Homo sapiens: one gene and its partner. The protein of the gene in region 1 purifies or fractionates together with the protein of each later gene. This does not show direct contact. Each region holds a gene or a part of one and is shown on either strand. Other genes may lie near its edges.

What was found.
Region 2: the proteins of DIAPH2 (region 1) and DOCK1 fractionate together in Homo sapiens (co-fractionation; one large-scale study listed by BioGRID). This does not show direct contact.

The regions. Positions count from the first base shown.
Region 1 is NC_000023.11:96,957,270-96,961,093, reverse strand, and holds part of DIAPH2 (protein diaphanous homolog 2), read right to left. Parts: intron 3,267-3,824; coding exon 2,946-3,266; intron 1-2,945. UniProt on the Homo sapiens protein: Could be involved in oogenesis. Involved in the regulation of endosome dynamics.
Region 2 is NC_000010.11:127,408,825-127,412,648, reverse strand, and holds part of DOCK1 (dedicator of cytokinesis protein 1), read right to left. Parts: intron 3,613-3,824; coding exon 3,471-3,612; intron 3,337-3,470; coding exon 3,258-3,336; intron 2,395-3,257; coding exon of another isoform or gene 2,233-2,394; intron 1,810-2,232; coding exon 1,725-1,809; intron 1-1,724. UniProt on the Homo sapiens protein: Involved in cytoskeletal rearrangements required for phagocytosis of apoptotic cells and cell motility. Along with DOCK1, mediates CRK/CRKL regulation of epithelial and endothelial cell spreading and migration on type IV collagen.

The DNA of each region.
Region 1 (3,824 bases):
GCCAGCATTACCCCAATACGAAAACCAAACAAGGACACAACAATTAAAGAATATCCCAGATGAACACAGGCATAAACATCCTCAACAAAATACTAGGGAACTGAATCCAACAGCACATCCAAAAGATAATACATCATAATCAATGGGATATACCCCATGAATGCCAGGATTGTTTAACATATGCCATTCAATAAACGTGATACATCACAGCAAAAGAATGAAAAATGAAAACTATATAATTATCTCAACAGATGTAGAAAAAGCATTTGATAAAATGTAACATCCCTTCACAATAAAAACTCTCAACAATTAGGCAGAGAGGGAACATACTTCCATATAATAAATGCCATATATGACAAAGCCATTGCTAACATCATACTGAATGGACAAAACATGAAAGCCTTTCCTCTAAGAATTGGAACAAGACTAGGATGCTCACTTTCACCATTCCTATTCAACATAGTACTGGAAGTCCTAGCCAGAGCCATCAGTCAAGCAAAGAAATAAAGGACATCCAAATTGGAAAAGACAACATCAAATTGTCCCTCTTTGCAGACAACATGATCTGACATTTGGAGATACCTAAACACCCCACAAAAAACTCATATAATTAATAAATTCAGTAAGTTGGAGGATACAAAATCAACACACAAAATTTATTAATGTTTCTATAGCTGAACAATAAACTTGCTGGAAAAAAAAATAAAAAGGCAATCTCATTTACAATAGCTACAAAAAAATAAAAAACCTAGGAATAAATTTAACCAAAGAAGTAAAAGACCTTTATAAGAAAAACTACAAAACACTGATGAAAGAAATTAAAGAGGACACAAACAAATGGAAAGAGACAATGCTCATAGAATAAAGGAATTTACACTGTTAAAACGACCATACAACTCAAAGCAATCTACAGATTCAATGCAATCCCTATCAAAATACCATTAACATTTTTTCACAAAAAATAGGAAAAATAATCCTAAAATTCATATGGAACCACACAAGAGCCTGAATAGCCAAAGCAATCCTGAGCAAAAAGATCAAAGCAGGACATTGACTTCAAAATATACTACAAGGCTATAGTAGTCAAAACAGCATGGTACTAATGTAAAAAGAGATATATACACCAATGGAATAGAATAGAGAACCCAGAAGTAAATCCATATATTTACAGCTAACAGATTTGGCACAAATGTACCAAGAACATGCAATGGGGAAAGGACACCCTCTTCAATAAATGATGATAGGAAAACTGGACATCCATTTGCAAAAGAATTAAACCTGACCTATATCTCCCACAATATATAAAAATGGACTCAACATTGATTAAAGACTTAAGCATAAGACCTGAGACTATAAAACTACTAGAAGAAAACAAGACAAATGCTCCAGGACACTAATATAGGCAAAGATTTTGTGGCTAAGACCTGAAAAGCACAGGAAACAAAAACAAAAATGGGTAAGTGAGATTATATTAAACTAAAACGCTTCCGCATAGAAAAGGGAACAATTAACAGAGTAAAGAGACAATCTGTTGAATGGGAAAAAATATCTGCAAACTATCCAACAATGGACTAATATCCAAAAAATACAAGAAACCCAAACAATAGCAACAAAACAAATAATCACATTAAAGAGTAGACAAATAATTTAAGTAGACATTTCTCAAAAGAAGACAAACAAATGGCCAAGATATATGAAAATGTGCTCAACATCATTAATCACCAGGGAAATACAAATCAAGACCACAGTGAGGTATCTTACTGGCATCTTATGCCAGTTAGAATAGCTATTATCAAAAAGACAAAATGCTGGCAAAGATGTGGAGAAAAGGGAACTTTCATATACTGTTATTAGGAATGTAAATAGTACAGCCATTATGGAAAACACTATAAAGATTTCTCAAAAATATAAATAATAGGATTACCATACAATAATGCTCCTAAATAACAGGATTACCATACAATAATGCTGTAATCTGACCACTGAGTATTTATACAAAGGAAAGGAAATCAGTATATCAAAGAGATACCTGCACCCTCATGTTTATTGCAGCACTAGGCACAATGGCAAAGATATGAAATCAAGATATGAAATCAAGCTAAGTGTCCATCAACGGATGAATGGATAAAGAAAATATAGTATTGAGACATAATGGAATACCATTCAACTATAAAAAAGACTGAAATCCTGTCATTTGCAGCAATATGTATGGAATTGGAGATCACTATGTTAAGTGAAAAAAGCTGGACACAGAAAAACAAATATCATATATTCTCACTCATATATAGGAGCTTAAAAAGTGAGTATCATGAAGGTAGAGAATAGAATGATAGTTACCAGAGACTGGGAAGGGTGTGTGTGGGAGGTGGGAGGGTGAAGAGAGATAGGTTAATGGGTATGAACATATAGTTAGATAAAAGGAATAAGTTCTACCATTTGATAGCACAGTAAAGTGACCATAGTTAACAATATGTTGTATATTTCAAAATAACTAGAAGAGAAGATCTGAATGTTCTCAACACAAACAAATGACAAATGTTAAAGGTGATGGGTATCCTAAATACCCTGACTTGATCATTACACATTCTATGCATGTAGCAAAAATCATATGTACCCCATAAATACGTACAAATATTACATATCAATAAAAAATTTTTAAAGAAAAGCTATGTTAAAAGAATCAAAATTGCTTGTCATTTGTTGGTATATTTCAAATATTATTCTCTACATCACTTCGATTTTCCTTTTGCCTGCTTCACAATGTCAAACTATCTGGAGAGTTTCCAATTATCTACAACCTAAATTGAAAGATGGACATAAAATGATGAACCCACAAAGGAACGGAAAGAGTCAGCAGTCATACTCTCAAACATTATACAATGTGTACACATAGCAATGATCAACAAAAGCTAGACAAAGTAAAAAAACTCTAGTTTTAGTATTACCTTTGACCAATTGATTCTCTTCATGGACACTTCAGGTTTATACATTTTTTTCTGCTTCATTCCATAAGGTAGATTAAGTGATATTCCTGGGGGAGGAGGAACTCCTCCAAGGGGTGGTGGTGGAGGAGGTCCCCCAAATAAAAGTGGTGGTGGGGGTGGTGGTGGTATCCCCATCATTCCAGGTAAAGGAGGTGGTGGAGGAGGAAGAGGAGCTCCTCCGGGTAGAGGTGGCGCGGGTGGTGGTGGAGGCGGCCCTACACCTGGCAATGGAGGTGCTGCAGGAGGACCTGGAATTCCTGATGAACTTGAGAGTACTTGTGCCTGAAATATAAATAATCCAAGTTTAAATGCTTATAAAATATAATTGAAAAAACTGAAGAAATATATATCAATAGATATTTGTAGTTTATTTATCTTATGTTTTAAGATCATATATACTTTTTTAGATATTACTAAAATATCTAAATATTTAGCAAGATCTAAGGGTTTAACAGTATATGAAAAAGGCCTGTGTAGATTTTTTATAAGCATTATAAATTCTGGACAGTGACTACTTCTGTTAACACACAAATGCTAGGAAAGTTGGTATCTGATAGGGTTTGGCTCTGTGTTCCCACCCAAATCGTGATCATGAGCAAGCTCTCACAAGACCTGAAGGTTTTATACGGGGATTTTCCCTTTTTGCTTGGCCCTTCTCCTTGCTACTGCGATGTGAAGAAGGATGTGTTTTGCTTCCCCTTTGGCCATGATTGGAAGTTTCCTGAGGCCTCCCCAACCCTGCAGAACTGAGTAAATTAAACCTCTTTCCTTTATAAATTACCTAGTCTCAGCCAGGTGCGGTGGCTCACGCCTGTAATCCTAACACTTTGGGAGACCGAG
Region 2 (3,824 bases), on another chromosome or scaffold:
AGGGTTCCGAGCTTTGCTCTGGTCAGGAGTAGGGTGTTAATTCACCTTTGACCTTTGCAGCCTAGATGCCTTCGGACGGCACACAAGAGAAGCCATTCTCAGCAGAGCCGGTCCTCCTTGGGGGTCCCCGGGCTAATGCCTCCTTGCAATACAGGAGTACAGAAGGATTTCCGGAGGTTTCCCAGGCAAGACGGATAAACATTAACATTTTAAAAAAATTATGGCTTATTTGATGCCTTTTCAACATGGATCCACTCACTTGAGCCCAGGAGTTCAAGACCAGCCTGAGCAACATAGACCCCACCTCTATATAAAAAAATAAATAAAATAAAAATACAAATGAATCCATGAAAGCAGTTTGTATGTAGAATTTTTAAAAGGCTCTAGGGCCAGGCGCGGTGGCTCACGCCTGTAATCCCAGCACTTTGGGAGGCTGAGGCGGGGGGATCACGAGGTCAGGAGATCGAGACCATTCTGGCTAACACCGTGAAACCCCGTCTCTACTAAAAATACAAAAAATTAGCCGGGCGTAGTGGCGGGCACCTGTAGTCCCAGCTACTTGGGAGGGTGAGGCAGGAGAATGGCGTGAACCTGGGAGGCGGAGCTTGCAGTGAGCTGAGATCATGGCACTGCATTCCAGCTTGGGCGACAGAGCGAGGCTCTGTCTCAAAAAAAATAAACAAATAAAAATAAAAAAATAAAGAAAAAAGGCTCTAAAGATGTTTGCTGTTATTTCTACAACTCGAATGCCGTGGTTTGCAACAAGGGGCAGATGTTTTATTTTGCAATGTCTGGAAACTTTATTTTTTTGATGGAGTTTCACTCTCGTTCCCCAGGCTGGAGTGCAATGGAGCGATCTTGGCTCACTGCAACCTCTGCCTCCTGGGTTCAAGCGATTCTCCCGCCTCAGCCTCCCAAATAGCTGGGATTACAGGCGTGCACCACCACGCCCGGCTAATGTTGTACTTTTAGTAGAGACAGTGTTTTACCATGTTGGTCAGGCTGGTCTCGAACTCCTGAACTAATTTGATCTACCTGCCTCAGCCTCCCAAAGTGTTGGGATTACAGGTGTGAGCCACCATGCCTGGCCTGGAAATCTTTTTGATTGGTTGTCCCAACTGGGGTGGTGGCACTGGCACCTAGTAGGCAGTGTTCAGGGATGCTGCCAAACATCCCTGGATGCACTGGATGGTCCCCACCACAGAGAATAACCCGGTCCGTATTGCTAGTAGTGCTGGGGTCAACCCTGCAGTTGTGTGTTGTGCTCCACTGAAGTTCAGGTGCTGGATACTGAATGAGGAATGAGCACCCGGGTCCAGATCCAGTTCATGTGCTGACTGCTGTGTCACCTGCAGAAAGCCACGTCAGCACCCCGCACCTCAGCACTCGGTGGGTCCATTTTTAACTAGAGATGACAGGCACCTGCTCTCTCACCTGGGGCTCGCAGGGAAGGCAGTGCGCTACTCATATGGGAGCTCCGGCATTTGGACGGCACAGTCTCCTTATTAAATATCTCAGTGACCTTAGTCATATTGTTAGTGAAATGGCAATTAGTTTTTCTAACTTTGGAGGGGGTAATAGATTAAGATTTCTGCACATAATACACAAAGACATTTAATATGGCTCCGTGGCTGCCTCTGAGGCCACGCTTCTCCAGTGGCAGTTCTACTGGTGGCGGAATGATATTTTTTGTTGTTTGGTTTGGTGGTTTGTTTGTTTTTTACCGCAAATTCATTGTCTGGGTTTTTCTCTCCCTTCCGGATTGGCCGAGAATATTCAAATCGCTGGACCTCGTTCACCCTGTAAAAACTGTACAGAGACAGACAGATCATTAGATATTTAACCCGGCAAATAGCCAATTTGCTTTTGGACACGGGGTCTGGCCTTAGAACATGTCACTGCCTCCTGTAAAATGTCCCTAACCTTGACCTGAAGCCATCGCCTTGGTGTCCTCTCCCAGCCAGGGAAATGTTGGCAGGTGGAAAAATTAACTTGAGTTTTTGCCTCTTCCCTGTCCCTGCCAACCCTCGAGGGAAAACAGAAGCTGAGTAAGAGTGAAATGAGCAAAAACAGAGGAAAGGTGAAGCGAAGGAGAGAGAAAAAAGCTTTTGTGTTCAACGTATGTGTTTATTATTATTTTAAAAAAGTATTACATACCTTAGTTTCAGATCTACAAAGCACAGATTTTGCAACCACCCCAAGAGTGACACACAGGAAACATAAGTAACCTGCCTCCGCGGTCGGGGTACGAGGCAGGCTTTCCGCATGCACAGGGCAGGGCGTGGAGAGACTGAGACTGATTTCTCCCCTGCACTGAAATGCAGGCAGGCTTCCACAGCAAAAGAAACTACTGCATCTGAGAAGGCTCTAAGCGTCACTATTTGCTTAAGGCCTCTGAAAAAAAATGTTGCAACCCTTAAAATGTATGCCTTGCGAGAGCAATCATTTGTAAATAAACAGGGTCCCAGTTTATTTCCCATTATTGCTGATGCAAGGTCAAAGAAACGATGAAAGGTTAAAGAAACCACCAAACTTCAGGAAGCAAAATGAAGCTGATCCTAAGGAATATGAGGTCATCAAAGAGATTAATATTTTCACCAGAACATGGATCAAACAGAACAGAAAAGTCTTAATATCAAACACATCTGCTAAAGCAGGTCTTTCTATGCCATTGCTAAGTCAGGTGCGATACAACTGACAGGCAGAAAATCTCACTCAAATATGGACAGTTGACTCAGGAGGTTTAAAAGCCCCCTCATAACCCTACATTATGGAATTGCTGTGCTGTAAGGCTGAAGGGTTCTCCTGTGTGTCACCAGGAGCAAATGTGCAAATCCCATTTCCCGCCTTCTAAAATGCAAACATTCAGGCCACACTCACATGTATGAACTTGGCTTTGCTGGGAACAGGCAGGACTTGTGCACTGCTGTGAAGTTCCCTAGGGGATTGTACCCCACAGGGCAGGTCTATAAAGGAGACCAGACGGCCTCCACTGCCCTCTTAGGTTTTTGCTGTCAGCTGACTTTGGGAAAGGAATAGGCTTTGCACGCTCCCAGCACATGGATTAACATCTCCTGTCACTTTTTTTGGATGCTGAAAATAATTAGCTTCCCTTGCTCTTCAAAGAGGACAGAAAGAGCATTTGGAAAGCGAATCCATGGCCAAAGTCCGTCCTTTAAAAGGTGGAATTATTAGCAAGAGATCTGTACACAGCCTCTTACAACCCTCACGTTGGGTAAGAAAAATGGGATTATTACCTTACAATCTGCTCTGACACTGGCCTGTGAAACTTAGGAGGCAGATCGAGTTTGGGCTTCACTGTGAAGCACTGAATATCTGAGGTGAGGGGGTTAAGGATCACTAAGGCAGCATAGACATCAACCATGAGAGAGGCCCCCCACCACACCCAACCACCCAAATGAATGGCATCACCATGGTTTCAGAGTTGATGAGGTTGTCTTAAAGGATACACTGGCCAGGAGAGTTTTTAATATCGTCGCCTGGTGGAGATGTTGTCTTCATTTTCTCGGCGTTTGGAAACTGAGTTAAGAGCCGAGCCTCAAAATCTTCCCGGCGCTCATACTCTTTCCCTCGGTAAATGAAAACTTTTCCCTGAAAAGGGTGACATTCATTTCATAACACCACAGAGAAAGGGCCAGGAAGAGTTCACATGCAATATGCTGGCCTTAAAATATGCCTTACGGGTTCTTACAAAATGTCATTAAATTTAAGAACAACTTGTAATTTTTATTTTTTTTTGTACTTGCGTTGGCTTTGTTAATCAAGAACACATGGTCATCAAGCATGTAAGTTAATACTGTTTA